2 separate regions of the Homo sapiens genome follow, and region 1 is linked to region 2. The links come from fine-mapping of genetic effects on gene expression. A gene starts in region 2. The other region holds a variant in brackets. All regions are shown on one strand. Distances are from middle to middle. Region 1 holds the start of NUMBL (NUMB like endocytic adaptor protein). Region 2 holds the start of COQ8B (coenzyme Q8B).

What was found. PIP is the estimated chance that this variant, and not a neighbour inherited with it, causes the effect.
Region 1: its variant is fine-mapped to the expression of COQ8B in cerebellar hemisphere (GTEx, PIP above 0.99). The same link has a PIP of 0.9 or more in cerebellum.

What each region holds. Positions count from the first base shown.
Region 1 is chr19:40,684,124-40,693,983 of GRCh38, forward strand. NUMBL (NUMB like endocytic adaptor protein) reads right to left here and starts at 6,528. Exons shown (of 10, transcript NM_004756.5): 1 at 6,337-6,528; 2 at 2,788-2,872; 3 at 294-433. The coding sequence starts at 6,360. It overlaps COQ8B (coenzyme Q8B), which reads right to left. Exons shown (of 15, transcript NM_024876.4): 14 at 8,828-8,914; 15 at 7,407-8,250. The coding sequence ends at 7,912. RefSeq lists enhancers at 3,401-3,695, 4,819-5,758, 5,432-5,481, 6,697-7,634 and silencers at 6,321-6,660, 6,981-7,220. The variant T/C (reference allele first, on the strand shown) is at 5,142.
Region 2 is chr19:40,712,372-40,722,231 of GRCh38, forward strand. It overlaps COQ8B (coenzyme Q8B), which reads right to left and starts at 4,515. Exons shown (of 15, transcript NM_024876.4): 1 at 4,216-4,515; 2 at 2,160-2,264; 3 at 1,907-2,026; 4 at 1,696-1,762. The coding sequence starts at 2,261. It overlaps ITPKC (inositol-trisphosphate 3-kinase C), which reads left to right and starts at 4,741. Exons shown (of 7, transcript NM_025194.3): 1 at 4,741-5,919. The coding sequence starts at 4,765. RefSeq lists silencers at 3,262-3,311, 4,632-4,991 and enhancers at 3,982-4,061, 6,565-7,266.

The DNA.
Region 1 (9,860 bases), 28 kb before region 2:
AATGGCGCTATCTCGGCTCACTGCAATCTCCGCCTCCCGGGTTCAAGCGATTCTCCTGTCTCAGCCTCCCCAGTAGCTGGGACTACAGGCGCCCGCCACCACGCGAGGCTAATTTGTTGTATTTCTAGTAGAGCCGGGGTTTCACCGTGATAGCCAGGACTGCCGGCCTCACGCTTTTTAACACCAACTTCAAACGACTTGGGCTGGTGTCCCAGCCAGGCCGCGCACCCGCACAGCACAGCACAGCGGCCCCCGTCCCCCTCGCCCCGCCGCACCCTGCCGCGCCCACTCACCCTGACCGGGAAGCTGCACGTGCCCTTCCGCACCGCGTCCTCGTCTGCCTGCCACTGGTGCGGGCGCGACGCCTCGGGCACGTAGGCTGGCTTCCTCCGCCGCAGGCTCTGCCGTAACTTGTTCATGGTGCCCGCCCCGTCTGGTGACACAGGACAGTGATGTGGGTCAAGGGTGGGGGTCAGAAGGTATGGAGCTCAACGGGGAGGGACCAGTGCTCAGGGAGCATGGGGTCAGATAACAAGATAACTGGAAGCGGGGTTACAGGGTCAGTTGGCAGCGCACATGGGATCAGCAGCTCAAGTCAGGGGACAGTGAGGAAAGGAGCCAACAGAAGCCAGGGGAGTGCGAAAGTTGGGCACTGGGGATTCAGAACCATGGGGCTAAGGGGCTGGAGGTCTGGGGTGGGGGGTATGGGGCACAGGCTTCAGGGCATTGGAGGGCTTCTTGTCCATGTGGTGGATGCTTCCTCATTCCCAGGGCCGTGAGGACACAAAGGGTGGGAAATCAGACGTAGGAGGGCATGGGGGCTAGAGGGCATAGAAGTCAGGGGCCGCACGGTCAGGGGTTTTAGGGGTATGAGAGTCAGGCAGTGGGGTGATCAGAGGGCAGCAGAGGAGTTGGGAATTGCATGGGTCAGGGGTGCAGGAGTCAGGTGCATGGGGTATGGGGGATGGTGGCTTGTCTCTGGAACTCTGAGACACAGCCATTCTGTGACAACTGTGTCTAGTCCCCAGGCAAGGCTTCTGGGGCCTTGCACTGATGACTGTCAGAGGCAGGGCTGTGGGTGTGTGGAGTGGGTGTGGAGGTGGCCAGCCACTAGGACAGTCTTCACTGATCAGCCATCCTGACAGTCCCAGGACTGGGAGCACCAACAGCAGAGGGGGATGTGTGTGTGTGTGTGTGTGTAAGCAAGTGTGCAATGGTATGTTCTGGAACGCTGTCTATGAGGGGCTCTATATCTGAGCAGGCAAGTAATGTCTGTGAGTGTGTTTCTGAAGGCTGTCTGGAAGAACGCATGTCTGAGAATGGTGTAGGATAGTGTGCATCTGTGAATGCTGTCCGTGAGGGATGCATCCAAAAGTGTGGTTGTTGTCTGTGAGTCTGAGGCCCTGAAGGTTGTTGCTGAAGGGCATCGATGTCTGAGAGTGGTTGTGAGTGTGTGTCTGCTGTCTATATCCGAGAGTGCCGTTGTTGTCTATGAGAACTTGTGGCTCAGTGCCTGTTGCCTGTGAGGGTGTGTCTGTGTTTGAGATGAGGCTGTCGTCTTTCAAAGGGTGTGTCCATGGCTGTTATCCATGTAGCTATGTCTCTGTGTGAAGGTGTGGCTATTGTCTGTGATGACATTGCCTCGGAGAGTGCATCTGAGGGATCTACAAGACTGTCTGTGTCCAAGAGTGCAGCTGTTGGCGGTGAGCCTGTGTGACTGTGGCTGTTGCCTTAGAGTGTGGGTGTGTGGGTATTGCACAGAGGGTGTATCTGTGTGCAGTGGTGCATCCGTTAGGGTGTGTGGGAACATGAGGTTGTCTTTGAGAGTGTTTTCATGAGGGTTATTTGTAAGGGTGTGACTGTTGCCTGAGAGAGTGCTGGGTGTTCTTTGTGAGACTGTGTGCATGTTTGTACACAACCGTAGCTCCCTGTGAGAGCCTGGGCCCGCGGGTGCTGTCTGTGAAAGTGTGGCTGTCGTCTGTAGAAATGTGGGTCTGTGTGTGTTGTCAGACTGTGCAAGAGTGTGTCTCTTTTTTTTTTTTTTGAGACGAAATTTTGCTCTTGTTGCGAATGAAGGCTGGAGTGCAATGGCATGATCTCAGCTCACAGCAACCTCTGCCTCCCAGGTTCAAGCGATTCTCCTGCCTCAGCCTCCCAAGTAGCTGGGATTACAGGCATGTGCCACCACCCCTGGCTAATTTTGTATTTTTAGTACAGACAGAGTTTCTCCATGTTGGTCAGGCTGGTCTCGAACTCCTGACCTCCTGACCTCAGGTGATCCTCCCGCCTCAGCCTCCCAAAGTGCTGGGATTATAGGCATTGAGCCACCACGCCCGGCCAAGAGTGTGTCTCTTGAGAGTGTGTATCTCAGAGTCTGTATCCAGCGAGCGTCTGTGGTCACCTGTGAATCTGGGTGTTGTCTAGGAATGTGTGTGTGTGTATATATGTGTGTACATTAGTGTGATGAACATCTACTTCAGCATGTGTTCAAGTGTGTCACTGCATTAGCAAGTGTGTGTGATCTGAAAGAGATCTGTGTGTGTGTGTGTGTCTCTAACCGTATATCTACAGATGTGAGTGTTTGTGACTCTGCACTTGAGGCTGTAAGGGTGTCAGGGTGTGGGTCTGTGCATGAGTGGGGCTCTGACAGTCGCTGAGGAAGATGCCTGAGGGTGTCCACTCATGAGTGTGATTAAGCCTGTGTGACCGCAGGGACAGCTCCTCTGGTCGTGTTAGGCAAGACCACATACCCATTCAGCCCTGCCCTGTCCCAGGCTGGTCGCTCACCTGGCTCCGTCCTGCAGGTTTCTGGGGGCCCCGGGGCCCCACAGGGGGCTGGGGGCAGGTGCCGCTCAGGCCTCCGGGGTCCGCCCTGCCCGAGTAGGGGAGGAGAAGGTGAGAAGTTTGTCTGGGTTGGGGCTCAGTCTGATACTTCACCCCGACTTTGGACTTCGGCCAGCCCCCTCCATCTTGGGCTCCCTGATGAGAGTCCTAGTTGTCCTAGCAACTGTTACCAGGGAGATCAGCCACCTGGTTCCAAGGGCCCAGGAAGGAGTAGGTATGTTTGGGGGGCATATGTTGGGGATGTGCTGGCCTCAGGAGAGCCTCACTGCCCAAGGGGATGCTGTGAGAGTGGCCTTGCCCTCCAGATGCATGTGCAGGGCTACACACATACGCAGCCAACTCATATCTACAGGTGTCCCTAGCATCTGGCCACAGCTTTACACACTTGGTTACACATAGACGCAATCACAGCTACACACCTCAGATCGCAGATACACAGAAACAGTCCCAAACCCAGAAAGCTGCCACTGTAAACATCTGGCCGCATATTCATGTTCGGACACACACAGTCTCTACTACAGACATTTGTCCACATACATGCAGCATGTCCTGGCCCACTCAGTTCCCACCGCAGACACCTGGTCACACCACCCACTGAAATTTGGTCACTTCCACATTCTCAGCCACATACAAAGAACGGGGCCCAGACAACCCACTAGAGCCGCACATGCGTGGCCACACCCAGTGACAGCTATGTTTCCTCAGGCACCCGCCCAAGATACTGACGTCACAGGCCCACCCAGATAGAATCACACCCAGAGTTCACCCATTTGCTGACCCAGTCCCACACGACACAATCGCAGCTATATACACTTGTTACACGTATCTCCACTGCTGCACACTGACATCTGGTCACAGATGCACACGGACAGACACACATTTGGTCCCACGGAGACCACATGCAGCCTCAACCAGACCAGTCACACCAACACACTGTTTTTGGCCACACACTGTCACGTGGTCACACATACTCAGTCATAGGTGCTCAAATCTGGTCACAGCATCAGTCACACAGTCTATTGTGACAGCCACACTCATAGGGACAGTCCTCTATACACAACCACATACAGAGGTACTGATGGCCACAGCATGCAACCACCCACAAACAACTGTCCCCAAGGATGGCCTCCCTCAAGACACAGCCATGGTGGTCCTATAGGCATGGCCACAGCATCAATGTCCATGTGACCCAGCCACCTATCATGGTCATAATCCCGTCACCCAGTGTCCATACACAGCTGTACCATGTCACTCCAATGCAGCGAAACATATAGCCTTTCTTCATGCAGGCACACAAGTCACACAGACAAGTATGTGGCCATATAGAATCACAGCCCCGTGTGGACAGGTGCACAAAGTCACAAGCCCCACCTACACACATATCTCACACATAGAGACATAAGCACACAGTTTTAGTTTCCCATGTCACAAGTACACAGTCCAGTGTATGCACATAAATGCAGTGACCAGGATGTGGCATTTATAGCTGGGTTTACACAGAAGACACAGGTCCTGACGGAGCCATGTGCACAGTCAGGGGCCAATCTCATCACCAAATCACACATTCTAACACAGGTAGTCCAGCACATACACACAGAGACAAAAACAGGCACACAGCTACAGACCCCACACTCTCACAGATGATGACATAGACACAGACATCTATAGTCACCCAGGGTCAGACATGCAGGTCAAACACAATAATATGGAAGCCATAATCATATACACACCCCTACAAACATAATTTCCTGGCACCAGCACGGAGACACATCCACAGCTTTAGTCACACACAAATAATCCCTCTAAATAGCCAGGGTTTCAGACACCAAGTCAAATACATAACCCAAATCACACATGCAAGGCTAGAAATACACACAATCACTCGTTATCACACACACTGCTAGATACAGTCATTTATATTAATACAACCTCAGTCACACACTCAGACATGGTTCTGCATACGCAACCACTGTCATACACAATACTGTCACACAACCCCAGTCACACAGATACAATGTGACTTCAGACACAATGGCAGTCACACAGGCAGAGTTGCACAGACAGGTGTGTGTCACTCACGTATATAAAATCAGGTAGAGACACAACTATAAACATTGTCAGTCACTGGGAGGGTCACACATGCACATGGAGCCATAGACAACTCCACTCACACACAGTCACAACTCCACCCACGTCCTGTCAGTCACACGCATGCCCACCCCCAGACTCAACACATACTGTCACATACCCAGTTATAGTTACCGAGGCATACAAACACAGGGTCACAAAAGACACAA[T/C]CACAGACAACCACAGTCACAACCATGCACACCTCCAAACACAGACAGACTAAAAAGTACAGGATTCTGCACAGTGAGCAGCTGTCACACACACATACACAGTCACACAGATACTAGGGTCACAGACACAATCATAGACACCACCACAAGCACACACACACGACACAGGATTCCTCAGTCACCAGCTGCAGCGTACGCGTGCACACACACACACACATACACAGCCACAGTCACACAAACACAGGGCACACTCCTAGCCACCTCCCCATCGCTTGCTTCCCCCCTTCCCCCCAGGTACCACACACAAAGCCGCCGTCACCGTCACCGCAGACACTGCAGACAGACAGGGCTGCACCCGGTCCCTGGGGAGCCGCCCCCAGCCCAGCCTGTATCCTGGAGCCTGAGGGCCAGGTCCAGGAGGGGGAAGCGGTGCATTGTCTGCGGGTGGGGCCACTCTTGGACAGCTGGGCAGCCCTGGGGACAAAGGGGGTGGCCTAGGGATCCTGTGCCCTGGGACCCATGACCAAGCCAGGGGGTGGAGGGATTGGGGGTTGCCTGAAATTGTCCTTATTTTATTCAGGCTGGGGTGGGGTGGAGTCCCAGGCACAGGGACCTTGTTTTGAGAAGTGGCTGTGCCTGGGACTCCGCCCAAGGATTGGGGGGATGCTGTGCCCAGGGTGCCTCTGAGACCTGGGGGCAGGCTGTGCTTGGAGTCCCCCTAGGCCTTGGCGTGGTGGGAACGCTGTACCCAGTGACCCCATCCTCGAGACCGTACCTAGGCAGTTGTTGTGCTGAGACCCCCTTAGGCAGGGAGAGGTAGGGATTGTGTCTGGAATCGCGTCCTGGAGGCCTTGGTTTGATACGGGGGCTGTGTCCCCGACCCCATCTCCATCCCCATCTAGTTCTAGGAGTTGTACCTAGAATCTCTGTACCCCTGTCCTTGGTTTTGTGGGGGGTCTGTGTCCAGGATCCCTATTTCCAGGGCCTTGGCAAGAGATGGCCCAGGGGTCTGTGCCCAAGACCCCGGTCTCCTGGGCTTTGGCTTGTTGGGCCTGTTCCTGGACCCCCACCCGGGACCACCCTCTCCAGCCTTGGCACCCTCTCTCCATCCGGGCGCCGCGGCCGCCTCCCACCCTCCGCCACATCAGCAGCGGCGCCGCCCCCGACCCGAGCCCCCCTCTCCCGCCCTTCTCACGCTGGCCGCCGCGCTGCGGGACATCCAGGGCCCGGGCGCCCCCGCCTCCCGCGGCCCTGGCTGGGCCTGGCTCCCCGACTGCTGCTGCTGCGGTGGTGGCGGCGGCAGCTCGGTCTGACGCCGGCCAGGGCCCGGGGCCGGGGGATGGTGCGGGATGCACGCGCGCGAGCCTCCTCGGCTCCCGGGAGGATTCCGTTCCGGGGGCGGGGGAGCGTCCCTCGGCCTCGGCTCCCCGCCCCGACCCCGCCCATTGGCCCGCCGCCTGCCGTATATGCAGAAAGGTCCCGCCCCGCCCCGCCCCTTGGCCTGAAGACCCCGCCCACACGCAGACACCATCCCGCCTTCCCCGGCGCGGCCACCGCCCCGCCACGCCCATTGGCCAGTCCCGAGCTGAGCATGCCTATGAACATCGCCGAGTCCTTTCCCCCGGTCCGTCCTGGCCTGGGCTCCCTTTCCCTCCGTGACACCTGACCTCAGATCCCCTCCAGCTCCGCGTCCGAAAGAGTTGCTTCTAGAGGCGCCTTGCCGCCCCACACCCCCAAATCTTCCCGCTAACCCCATGGTTCCCCAGCCCGGCGGGGGCGGGCAGGAGCGGTGACGAGGCACTTTTTGCAAGGAAGGGGAGGGGGTGTGAACAGACCAAGGCGTCCTGATGCGCGATCGGTTCGGCTTTGGGAACGGGGGCGCCGGGGTGGGACCAGGGCGCGGTTCTGGCCGCTACGGCGCCCCCGCCGCCCCCTACGCCAATCCTGTGGGTTTGGCAAAGCAGCTGGCAGGGACATTAGAGCCCATTAGTAAAGGCGAGGTTGCCAGGAGTGAGGGGAGGGAGCCCGCAGCCAAGAGGCACTGTGTGTGTGGGAGGCCTCAGCTGCCACAGCCCTTAGAGCAGGTGGTCAGCACGTGGGGGGGGGTGGGGAAGGCGAGAAGGAGGTTCCCGGCAACAGATGGCACAGGCAGGGCTGAGGCTTTCAGACAAGGGGGTGCAGGGGGGCTGGCCATCTGCACCTGGAGGCCGCTGGCGAGCTCCTCCCCCTCTCCCCCCAACCCTAGCGCAGAGAAAAGAGCTGGGGGAAGGGGAGGGCTGCTTTTATTCCGATTGAAGATTCAGCTCCCCCCCACCCCGCACCCCTACCTCTCCAACACACTGAGAGGCTGGAACCCGGGAGAAGGCAGCTGTTGGAGGAGCGAGGGAGGCAGAGGTGAGGACTGCCTCCAGGACCATCTCGCCTTCCACGGGAGGCTTGAGGCAGAGGTGAGGGCTCCCCCTGATGAGTCTGATCTGCATAACGACATGCAGCGGCCCAAGGCTCCCTCAAATGTTGGCAAAGATAAGTTAACCGCTTCCCTGGCTTAGTTTTCGGATACCCACTTTCGAGTGGGGAGGTGCAGGATCTAGGGCACGAAGTTGGGAGTTCCCCAGCCCCAGGGATCCTGAGCTCCTGGGCCAAGGAGGAGAGCCAGGCAAGACTGGGAAGCCCAAGGGGGCTCCTCTGACCCAGGGCAGACGGGGAAGGGATAAGAGGCACTACAGCAGGGTACGGCCTGCTCTGGGGACTGAATCCCCCATGGAGGCTGTCATGAGGGATCCACCCAGGAGTCCCCTTTGGTGGGGAGGCTGCCGGCAGTGGCTGCGTCTGGCTGGCGACTGGCCCAGTAGCGGTGGTAGGTGTCCTGGAAGAGGTCCCTGCAGGCGATGTGGGCTCGGAGGTGGGCACAGGCCAGGAAAGCCCCTGCCAGCTTGCGGTGCAGGGCATAGGTCTCCTCGGGTGGGGGACACAGCCGGTGCCGCAGCAGCACCGGGATGAGGTCCTGTATGCGGCGGGCCGTTTCCCCCGACCCAAAGTCATAAGGGCCCTGGGTGGCGAAAGGCTCCCCCAGGATCATCACTGCCTCCACGTGGGCGTCGGAGAATGCCTGGGAGTGGGGGTGGGGGGAGAGCAAAGGCAGCCAGTGTGGACATAGAGCCCTCTGCATAACCCAGAAACAACGTGTAGCCTCCACTCCCTCCAGTCTCCACCATCAACACAAGCCCCGACTCCCCCAAGAGTGAGCAGCTTCCACTCCTTCCAGAGCCTGGACTAGACAAGCAGCTGCCTATTCCCCGAGTAAGCACCCCTTACTTCCCTGCAGAGCCTCCAACAGACAAGTAGCCCTCTACTCTCTCTACAACAGAGAAGCGGCCTTCGCCCCTCCTGAACAGATCCACGGTGCCCATGTTCCCAGGGTTCCTGAGAAGTCAGGCAGCCACCTCCCCCCACTCCTCCCCAAAGCCCCCAGCATGGATAAGCATCCCTCCTAGAGTCACCCACTCCCCAGGTATAGACACACAGCCTCCATTCTCCCTAGTGGAGACAAGCCCCTCCTAGAGTCCCCCAGTCCCCGGGTATCGACATGCCCCATCACCTACTCGAGTTCCTCAGTGGAGATAAGCAGCCCCCCACTGCACCCCACCAACAGACACCAGCCCCTTTCTCCCCCAGTGTCTCCCCACCTTGGTTTCAAAGCCTGTGAGGAATTTGAGGTCCCTGGACTTCTGCAGGACACAGTCTCTGTCTCCATCAGCTGCAGCCTTCACCACCTGGGGAGACGGGTGGGAGTTAGAGGGACAAAGGCCGGGGCTCAAGGGGGCTCTGGAGAAGAGGAGCTGGAAGCCTGGGCCTCCCATGTACCCACCTCCATTCTCATCTGCCTGGGCCCTCCCTCACCTGGAAGCTTCCTGCTCCCAACTTTGCCTGTCTGTGACTCCCTTAAAGACTCTTCCAGAGCCTGGGAGTGGAGGTGGTTAGGGATCCTGCCCACCTAGAGGGCAATGTGGGGCCTGCCCGGGAACTGCCACAGTGAAACAGTGCAAGAAACAAGTGTCAGGGCTGCTGGTGAGTCCAAACACTCAACTGGACGGGTATGAGCGTGACCCAGAACTGCATCCAAAGTTGCCAGGGGCCATCTCTCTGTCTCCCACACTGGACTTTGAGCCCCGTGAGAGCAAGGATCCCAGTTGGGTTTAGTCGCACGGGGCACAGGGTCTGGTGCTGAGGAGGCCCTGGGTGAACCTTGCTTTAGCAAATGAGCGTGTGGAGCAGAGCAGCTCTCCAGCCATGAGCTCACACACACAGGGCAGGAGTTGTGGGCATGGAGAGATGCCCAGCTGGGGCCAGCTGGCTAGGGTTCCGTCCCAGCTCTGCCACCTGCCGGCCTGTTGGGCCTCCACTTTCTCATCTGTGAAGTGGGGATGCCAAAAGTGCCTTCCTCATGGGGCTGTTGGGAGGATAAAGAAGGTGATGCCTGTGGCCTGCCTGGCGCTGTGTCTCATGCAGGAAGCACCGTAAATACTATAATCTACCATTATTAAGAGGTGGGCACGGGGGTCCCTATTTCACAGAAGGGGAAGCAGACCCGGAGTAGGGAGTGGAACCGGGTCACACCACTCACTACTGGGTTGCCCTTTTTTGTGAGGAGGGGGATTCGGGATTAATTCCATTCCCTCTCTGCTCCCCCTGCCCGAGCATGTCTGGCCATCTGTCAGG
Region 2 (9,860 bases):
AGACCATCCTGGCCAACATGGTGAAACCCTGTCTCCCTAAGAAAAAAAAAAAAAAAAACAACAAAAAATAGTTGGACGTGGTGGCGTGCATCTGTAACCCCCGCTACTCAGGAGGCTGAGGCAGGAGAATTGCTTGAACCTGGGAGGTGGAGGTTGCAGTGAGCTGAGATCATGCCACTGCACTCCAGTCTGGGTGACAGAGCAAGACTCCATCTCAAAAACAAAAACAAAAACAAAACTTGAACCATGATCAGCAATAAGAAGACATTTACGTTATAACCAGTGCAGACCAAGGTATATGTTTCACGAAACAAGACTTTCCCTTGCTCTACAGGTGCATGCATATTTTCTGTCCTATTCTTCTTTTTAAATGCTGGTTGCAACCCACTAAATTATTTCATGTGACTTGCACGACATCCGGCTGTGTAACCCAAAGTCAAGTGACCTCCCCTTTGTTAGCCTCAATGTCCTCATGTACGGAATAGAACACTCATTGATTCAGTGCAGCATGTGTGTATATGGGACACTGCACATTACAGGTTCTCAGTAAATGTTATTATGGCCAGGAGCAGTGGCTCATGCCTAGAACCCCAGCACTTCGGGAGGCCGAGGCAGGAGGATCGCTTGAGACCAACTTGAGCAACATAGGGAGACCCTATCTCTACAAAAAAATATTTTTTAAATTACCCAGGCCAGGCACAGTGGCTTCCCGGGCACCGTGGCTCACATCTGTAAATCCCAACACTTTGGGAGGCCGAAGTGGGTGGATCACTTGAGGTCAGGAGTTCAAGACCAGCCTGGCCAACATGGTGAAATTCTGTCTCTACTAAAAGTACAAAAATTAGCCAGGCGGCCAGGTGTGGTGGCTCACGCCTGTAATCCCAGCACTTGGGAAGGCTGAGGCAGGCGGATCACAAAGCGAGGACATAGCAGAGTCATCCCTTGAACCCTGGGCAGCCTGGTGCCAAAGCTCTACCACTGCCTGACAAACATGGTGAAACCCCGTCTCTACTAAAAATACAAAAATTAGCCGGGTGTGGTGGATGCATGCCTGTAATCCCAGCTACTTGGGAGTGTGAGGCAGGAGAATCGGCTTGAACCCGGGAGGTGGAGGTTGCAGTGAGCCAAGATGGCGCCACTGCACTCCAGCCTGGGTGACAGAGGGATACTCCGTCTCAAAAAAAAAAAAAAAAAAATAGCCAGGCATAGTGGCAGGCACCTGTAATCCCAGCTACTCAGGAGGCTGTGGCAGGAGAATTGCTTGAATGTAGGAGGCAGAGGTTGCAATGAGCCAAGACGGTGCCACTGCACTCCAGCCTGGGCAACAGAGCGAGACTCTGTCTCAAAGGAAAAAAAAAAAAAAATTACCCGGGCGGATGGTGCACAACTGTGGTCCCAGCTACTCAGGAGGCTGAGGCGAGAGAATTGCTTGAGCCCAGAAGTTTGAGGCTGCAGTGATCGCGCCACTGCACTCCAGCCTGGGTGACAAAGTGAGACTCTGTCTCAAAAAAAAAAAAAAAAATTATCATTTATGTTCCTCTTGATTTCTCTTGGCCTTGCAGGCCCTTGCCTTTGTCTCTCTTTTTTTGTCTCTCTCTCTTTCCTGTCTCTGATTCATCCTCTCCCTTGCTTCAATCTGTAAATGTTGCCCTTTCTAATTGAGGTCACACCAAGATCCCCCAAAGTCACACCTACCCCCAAAGTTGGCCAAGCGGCTGATGCGGGAGGCAGGCACCTTGCGTTCTCGAGAGCGGTCACTCAGCTGGGAAATGGGGACAAGGTCTGAGGGTGGGAAAGTGGGCATCGTGGCCAGAGAGTGCAGCCACTCTGCCACCACACCCTTCCCCAAGCTCAGGGGGCCAGCAGTATTCGTGGGGTGTTGCTGGGTGGGTGGGGGTAATGATACCTGGGGCCGGGGTGTCTTCCTGGGACGGGCCTCCCGTGCCCTGCGAATGTCCTCCTCACCCAGGCCTCTCCCAGGCCCATCCTGGTAAAACTTTTGGGCCCAAGAACCTCCACATGGTCCCTGCAAGAGATATACTTTGATAAGGAGGGGAGGACATGGGATCACCTGGCCCTTCTGGACCCCTCCTGTCCTTTTACCCTCTGAAGTCTCCCTCAGCCTCTTCCCCTTGGGGACCTGCTCCCTAGCCTCTTACCCAGCGGTGGGGCCCAGGCCCCAGGGCCCCACAAGGCCAACCAACAGTCTGGCCCAGCTGTCCACCGGTCCCCCGAAGTAGGCCCCCCACCTTCAGCCACATTGCCTGGAGGAGAAGAGGAGGGATTATTCAGGTGGGAGTTGCCTGGCTTCTTGGCCAGGCCCCCATGTTCCTCTGTGTCCACCCTCTCTCATTCCCACCCACTAAATACTTCCTCCACTATTAATAGATTCCCACAGTTTCTCCTGGTTCTCCCCTGGTTGCTAGGAACCCTTAGCTCTTCCTGCAGGCCTCCCAAAACCCACTTTCCCCCCTCTCCCAACCCTCGCCGTTGCTAGGGTCCGCCCCCGTTACTAGACACCCACAGTTCCTCAGGGGCTACCTCTCCACTTCTCTGAAACCCCCCTCGTTGCTATGCACCGCCTTCCCCTCTGTTGGCCCTGTAGGCACCCGCAATTCCTCCGGTGTCCCCCCGCCCGATCCCCACCCCGTTACTGAGCACCTCCCCCCGTTGCTAAGCACCCACTGCTCTCAGCCTCCGAGTCCGCAACCTGCTGGGGCCCTCCTGTGCTTCCGGGAGCCTCTGTATGCCCGCCCCCTTCGGCCAGCCAACCAATGGCGCGGCAGCAACTCGCTGACTGGCACGGAGTTTCTCCATCTGTGCGCGGGGGAAGGGGCCAGAGAGAGGCCCTAGCGATGGAGCCTGGAATTAAGGTGGGCATCGGGGGCCCATCTGGGGGGATTGCTGAGGCATCGCGGGAGCGCAAGCGTGCCCTGTCTGCCCTTCCACTCACCTCAAAGTGCCTTGTACGCGACAGACCCTTCTGTTCCCTACACTTTCTTGCAAAGTCTCCCTTACAAACCTGACGCCTCTCTTCTGCACGAATATCTTGCCAACCCCCCTTCTTATTTTTACCCCTGGCAGGCTCAACACAATTCCTTTGAATACACATTCTTCCCAGCAAACATTTCCCTTGCACATGGAGCCCCTCCACTTTGCACAAACACCCACATTCTGGCACCCAACCTCCTTCCTTGTGCATATAAATCCCTTGCCTTGCTTGCCAACTGTTTCCCGCTCACGCCTTCAACTCTCTCGTGTACATACCCTCCCCCCCACTTGCACACTGAGTCTCTGTTCCCTCACACACCCTGTTCTCTCCGCTCCCCGCCCACCTGCGGAATGGTGCGACTGGGAGCCCTCTGCTTCCTGTAGGCCTGACATTTCCCAGAACACACTCAGCCAAGATTCCCAGTGCTGAGTCAGGAACCTTGGCATCCCAGAAAACCACCTCCCATCCTATCTTTCTTTCTCTGTGTGTGTGTGTGTGTGTGTGTGTGCGCGCGCGCGTTGGAAAGCCTGCTCTCCCCACAACAGGCTGACTCACCCACTTCTCACAGTCTGGAATAGAGGCATCTGGTTGGGGCATCTTTCCCACCACTGGGAGAGGGAGGGATGCCGATGCTTCCCCCACAGAACCCCGCTGCCCCAACCCCTCTTGTCGGGAATCAGGCCTCTTTGTCTCTATTCCCGTACTGTGTGACCTCAGAAAAGCCCTCATCCCTCTCTGGACTTCTCCTTCCCAACCTGTATGAGGTACTAGGTGGGCTCCTGCCTTCGATTTCTCTCATTGGTCTGTGAAAAGGTGACTCATTTTAGAGCCTTGGACCTGTGCCCAATGTCTCCCCCAGTTGACTCAATTTCAAGACAAACCACCTCCTCTCCCCCTTCAGAGGTGAACGGCTGACTCAGGAGCTGGGTGGCAGCTCAGCCTTGGGGGCAAAATATATCAAAATCACCTAGGACAATAAATAATCCTACTGGGCTACAACTGACAGTGCCAGGCCCGGGGCCACATGCTTCACATACATGAGATCATGTCAGATAGCCCCGTAGCTGCAAGCAAAGGGTAGAGGCCGGCAGATCTCTGAGCCTCTGTTCTCACGTGTAAAATGGAGCCCTGGCATCCCTATTGTTCAGCCTTGGAGAATGAACTGAAATCGTGTCAGGGTCTGATACAGAACAAGTACTCTATACATGACAGAGATTTCTTACGGAAAATCCAATGGAGCGTAAGTCATTTGCTCAGGGTAGCGGAGCTGGGAACTGGCAGAGGAAGGTCTCGAACCCACACCCGTGGGAACTCCAAGTCTTTGAAAGTCCGTCCCGCCCCTGCGTGAAGAATGGGCGCGCGGCTGGACTCGTCACCGGGGGTTTTAGGGAAGGTTGAACTTGTCATTCAACCGTGTAGGGAGGGTGGTTTAGTCACAGGGGTGGAGGGAGGGGGCCCACTGGCGCGCCACCAGGACCCCGGTGCCCTAGATGCATACCTGGCCGCGCTTCGGATGCTCAGAGGCAAACCCCCTCCCCTTGGGAGGCGGAGTCGGACAAGGCTCCGTCTCGTTCCGTTCCGTCACGTCCGGTGGGGCGGGGCTTCGGGGCTTTCCCCTTTGAGGGGAGTATCGGTTAACCCTTGCGCGGCGGGGCGGGCTGGAGCTCCGCGGGCCGGAACCCGGGAGTCGGGGCTCCCCAGCCACACCCCTCGCGGGATTTAAAGGGATAGGAGGGGCCGGGTCGGCCGAAGCCCGAACCGAAGGAGCGGGCATGAGGCGCTGCCCGTGCCGTGGGAGCCTGAACGAGGCGGAGGCCGGGGCGCTGCCCGCGGCGGCCCGCATGGGACTGGAGGCGCCGCGAGGAGGGCGGCGGCGGCAGCCGGGACAGCAGCGACCTGGGCCCGGCGCAGGGGCCCCGGCGGGGCGGCCGGAGGGGGGCGGGCCCTGGGCCCGGACAGAGGGGTCCAGCCTCCACAGCGAGCCTGAGAGGGCCGGCCTCGGGCCTGCGCCGGGGACAGAGAGTCCGCAGGCAGAATTCTGGACAGACGGACAGACTGAGCCCGCGGCAGCTGGCCTTGGAGTAGAGACCGAGAGGCCCAAGCAAAAGACGGAGCCAGACAGGTCCAGCCTCCGGACGCATCTAGAATGGAGCTGGTCAGAGCTGGAGACGACTTGTCTTTGGACGGAGACCGGGACAGATGGCCTTTGGACTGATCCGCACAGGTCCGACCTCCAGTTTCAGCCCGAGGAGGCCAGCCCCTGGACACAGCCAGGGGTTCATGGGCCCTGGACAGAGCTGGAAACGCATGGGTCACAGACTCAGCCAGAGAGGGTCAAGTCCTGGGCTGATAACCTCTGGACCCACCAGAACAGTTCCAGCCTCCAGACTCACCCAGAAGGAGCCTGTCCCTCAAAAGAGCCAAGTGCTGATGGCTCCTGGAAAGAATTGTATACTGATGGCTCCAGGACACAACAGGATATTGAAGGTCCCTGGACAGAGCCATATACTGATGGCTCCCAGAAAAAACAGGATACTGAAGCAGCCAGGAAACAGCCTGGCACTGGTGGTTTCCAAATACAACAGGATACTGATGGCTCCTGGACACAACCTAGCACTGACGGTTCCCAGACAGCACCTGGGACAGACTGCCTCTTGGGAGAGCCTGAGGATGGCCCATTAGAGGAACCAGAGCCTGGAGAATTGCTGACTCACCTGTACTCTCACCTGAAGTGTAGCCCCCTGTGCCCTGTGCCCCGCCTCATCATTACCCCTGAGACCCCTGAGCCTGAGGCCCAGCCAGTGGGACCCCCCTCCCGGGTTGAGGGGGGCAGCGGCGGCTTCTCCTCTGCCTCTTCTTTCGACGAGTCTGAGGATGACGTGGTGGCCGGGGGCGGAGGTGCCAGCGATCCCGAGGACAGGTCTGGGGTGAGTGGGACCCATCCTGCCCTTGAGCCACATCACGCAAAACTCCTTATTCCTCCGCCTTTGCTTAGGAAGTTCTCTACCCATTTACTGTTAGTTGCCCACCAGCAATTTCATCTCCGGGAACCTCTTCCATCCACTGACCTCCTCCCTCTGACAGCCAGGTTACTAATTCACTCCAGGCACCCCTTCTTAATTCTCTCCTTTCCCCTTCCTGCACTGTCTCCACTCCTGGGGGTCTACAATGGAGGGCCACTGACCGACTTTATGGGGCCCAGGAACCCCTGAAATTGTAGGACTAAGGAGCCTGCCGTGCGTGTTCACATACATTGTTGCAGCGACGGTCTGACATCTGTCTAATCCTCTGGAATCTGAAGAACACTGGGATAGGGAGACAGGCAGGGTGCACTTTCTACCCCACATTTCTTAATCTGGGGCCTGTGGCTGTCTTAAAGGGTCACAAACCTTCACCACCCCTTAGCCTATTTGTATGTACATTTTTCTAGGGAGCAAAGCGATTCCCCCAGCTTGCATCAGATTCGCAAAAGGGCTGTGTGACCCCAAACGCCAAAGGATCCTTGGCCTAGCCGGGAGCCCACCTGGTCTCCCCTGTGACCCCTACATCCCCAAGGAGCCCCCTGAACACTCTTGTTTACTTTGTCCACCGTCACCCCCAGCTTGGGTGTGGCTCTCCCCTGGTGAATCAGGAGGACCGGCCGGGCAGGTTCAGGGAGGGCGGGACAGAGCAGAGGCCGGTGTGAAACTGGAGAGCCTCACGTGGGGCTGGGAGCCGTGGGGCTGGGAGCCGAGTCCGGAGTCCATCAGCTTGCCAGCTTGCCTGCTGAGGCCTCTTTTTGCTCTGGGGCCCCTGGCTGGAGTCTGCCCTGAGCCCCGCTTCACCCCACATGCCTTCCTTGGGGACGTGTTCACACATGTGGCCCTAGCTGTGAGAGACAGACCTGCCTTGACGTGCCTGTGCCTGTGTGCAGGGGCTGACCCTCCTGGGCCCCATTGCTTTTTTCTCTCTGCCTGCCCTCTCACTTCCTTGGCATCTCAGAACAGCTGAGCTGGAAGTGGGTGAATAATAATAATAATAATAATAATAATAACAACAACAATTAGCACTCACTCATGTTTAGCCCTGTGCTAAGTGCTGTGCTTTTATTAACTCACTCACTCCTCGCAGCAACCCTAATGAGGTAGATACTTTTTTTTTTTTTCTGAGACAGTCTCGCTCTGTTGCCCAGGCTGGAGTGCAGTGGTGCCATCTCGGCTCACTGCAGCCTTCACTTCCTGGGTTCAAGTGATTGTCCTGCCTCAGCCTCCTGAGTAGGTGAGACACCAGGTGCCCGCCACCACACCTGGCTCATTTCTGTATTTTGAGTAGAGACAGGGTTTCATCATGTTGGCCAGGCTGACCTCAAGACTCCTGACCTCAAGTGATCCACCCGCCTCAGCCTCCCGAAGTGCTGGAATTACCAGCATGAGCCACTGCACCCGGCTGAGGTAGATACTATTATTATCCCCTTTTACAGATGAGGAAACTGAGGCACAGAGAATTCAAGTCACTTGTCCAAGGATATCACCTTGCAAGATGCAGATCAAATAATTCTAATCCTTACTGTACACCAGACACTGTTTTAAGTTTTTTCTTCTTTTTTTTTTTTAGTCTTTTTTGTCAATTTTTTTCTGTCATTTTTTATCTTAAAATAGCATCTATCTTAATTAAGGGCTTTGTATGTGTTAACTCTGAGTCCTTATGACAGCACTGAGATTGTCTCCATTCAACAGATGGGGGCCAGGCTCAGTGGCCCAAGCCTGTAATCCCAGCACTTTGGGAGGCCGAGGCAGGGGGATCACCTAAGGTCAGGAGTTCAAGACCAGCCTGGCCAACATGATGAAACCCTGTCTCTACTAAAATACAAAAATTAGCCAGGCGTGTGATGGCGGGCACCTGTAATCCCAGCTACTTGGGAGGCTGAGGCAGGAGAATCGCTTGAATGTGGGAGGCGGAGGTTGCAGTGAGCCGAGATTGCACCACTGCACTCCAGCCTGGGTGACAGAGCAAGACTCGGTCTCAAAAAAAAAAAAACAAAAACAACAGATGGGGAAGCTGAGGCATAGAGAGGTGAGAGATTCTTTGCTTAGGGTTGGCCACGTCAAGTCAGAGCCAGGATTCTAACTCAGTTCTGGCTGAGTTTCAAACCCATCGTTTAAACCCTCCAGTGTGTAGATCTGTTCCTAACTTGTCTCCCTCCCAGGCCTCCCTATCTCCAGTTTTTTTCTCATCCTTCCAGAATCTGCCTCCATGGCCCAGCTTTGTCTGCTCAGGTGCCCTCTCTGAGAGCAGTCAGGGGCTCAGTGCTGCGTTTGGAGCCTCCGGTCTCCAGGCGCCTTCCCAGAATCGACTTCCTTCCCTCCTCCTGACCCCCTCTGCTGTAACTAGGCCTGAGTACACACTGTTCCTTGAACACTCTTCTGTTGTCCTGCCTCCACGCATTGCTCAAGCCGTTCCCACTGCCCAGCATACCCGTGCTTCCTTCTCCCTTAATTTTGAAATCCTCTCTGACCGTAAAGGCTCAGCTTCCTTTCTCCCTTTCCTCCTTCCTTCCTTCTCACCATCCTGTCCTTTTTTTAAAATTGTGTTCTCTTTCTTTTTCTTTTTTTGGTAGGGATGGGGTCTTGCTATCTTGCCCAGGCTGGTCTTGAACTCCTGGGCTCAAGTGATCCTCCTGCCTCAGCCTCCCAAAGTGCTGGGATTACAGGTGTGCTATCCTATTCTTCTAATGAGACAAAAATCACTCCCTAAGCCCCTACCATGTATTTGGTCCTATGTTAGCTTTGCTGGGGAAACAGCAGTGACCAAGACACTCATGGAGCTCCCAGGCCCATGAAAGAGACAGACCAATCAGCCGACAGTCACAGTTCAGAGTGGTCAGGAGGATGTGTGAGCCCAGAAGGAGGTCACTGGCCAGACACAGGGTATCAGAGAGGGCTTCCTGGAGGAAGGGGCATATAAGCTGAGACCATTGTGAAAAAAATCCGAGAAAGCCCAGATAAACCATTGGATCTAACTTTTTTTTTTTTTTTGGAGGGCGTGCAGTGCGGAGTTTCACTCTGTTGCCTAGGCTGAAGTGCAGTGGCGAGATCTCAGTTCACTGCAACCTCAGCCTCCCGGGTTCAAGTGATTCTCCTGCCTCGGCCTCCCAAGTAGCTGGGACTACAAGCGCACGCCACCACGCCCGGCTAATTTTTTTTTTTAGTAGAGAGTGGGTTTCACTATGTTGGCCAGGCTGGTTCTGAGCTCCTGACCTCAGGTGATCCACCCACCTCAGCCTCCCAAAGTGCTGGGATTACAAGCATGAGCCACTGTGCCCGGCCCGGATCTAACATAAAACAGAGAGAGAAGATATTATGTTTATGATTAAGGGGCCAGGTGTGGTGGCTTATGCCTATAATCCCAGCACTTTGGGAGGCTGAGGTGGGAGGATTGCCTGAGCCCAGAAATTTGAGACCACCCTGGGCAACACAGTGAGACCTCATCTCTACTAAAAGGAAAAAAGAACTAGCTAGATGTGGTGGTATATGCCTGTTTTCCAGCTATTCGGGAGGCTAAAGCAGGAGGATTGCTTGAGCCTGGGAGGCAGAGGTTGCAGTGAGCCAAGATCACACCTCTGCACTCCAGCCTGGGCAACAGAGTGAGATCCTGTCTCAAAAAAAAAAAAAATTACTATTAAAAAAATCCCAACTAACATTCTTCAGTCCAAGCATCAAAGAATGTTTCTGGAGCGTCTGTCGTGTGCCAGGCCATGTGCTGGGGACATAATCATAACCATGACAACCCCAGTCTCTGCCATCATGAGCTTGTAGTCCAGCAAGTGTGTAGGGGATAAGCCCCAAGGCACTGGGATCCAACCAGAGCTAGAACCCCAGCGCTGTGTGGG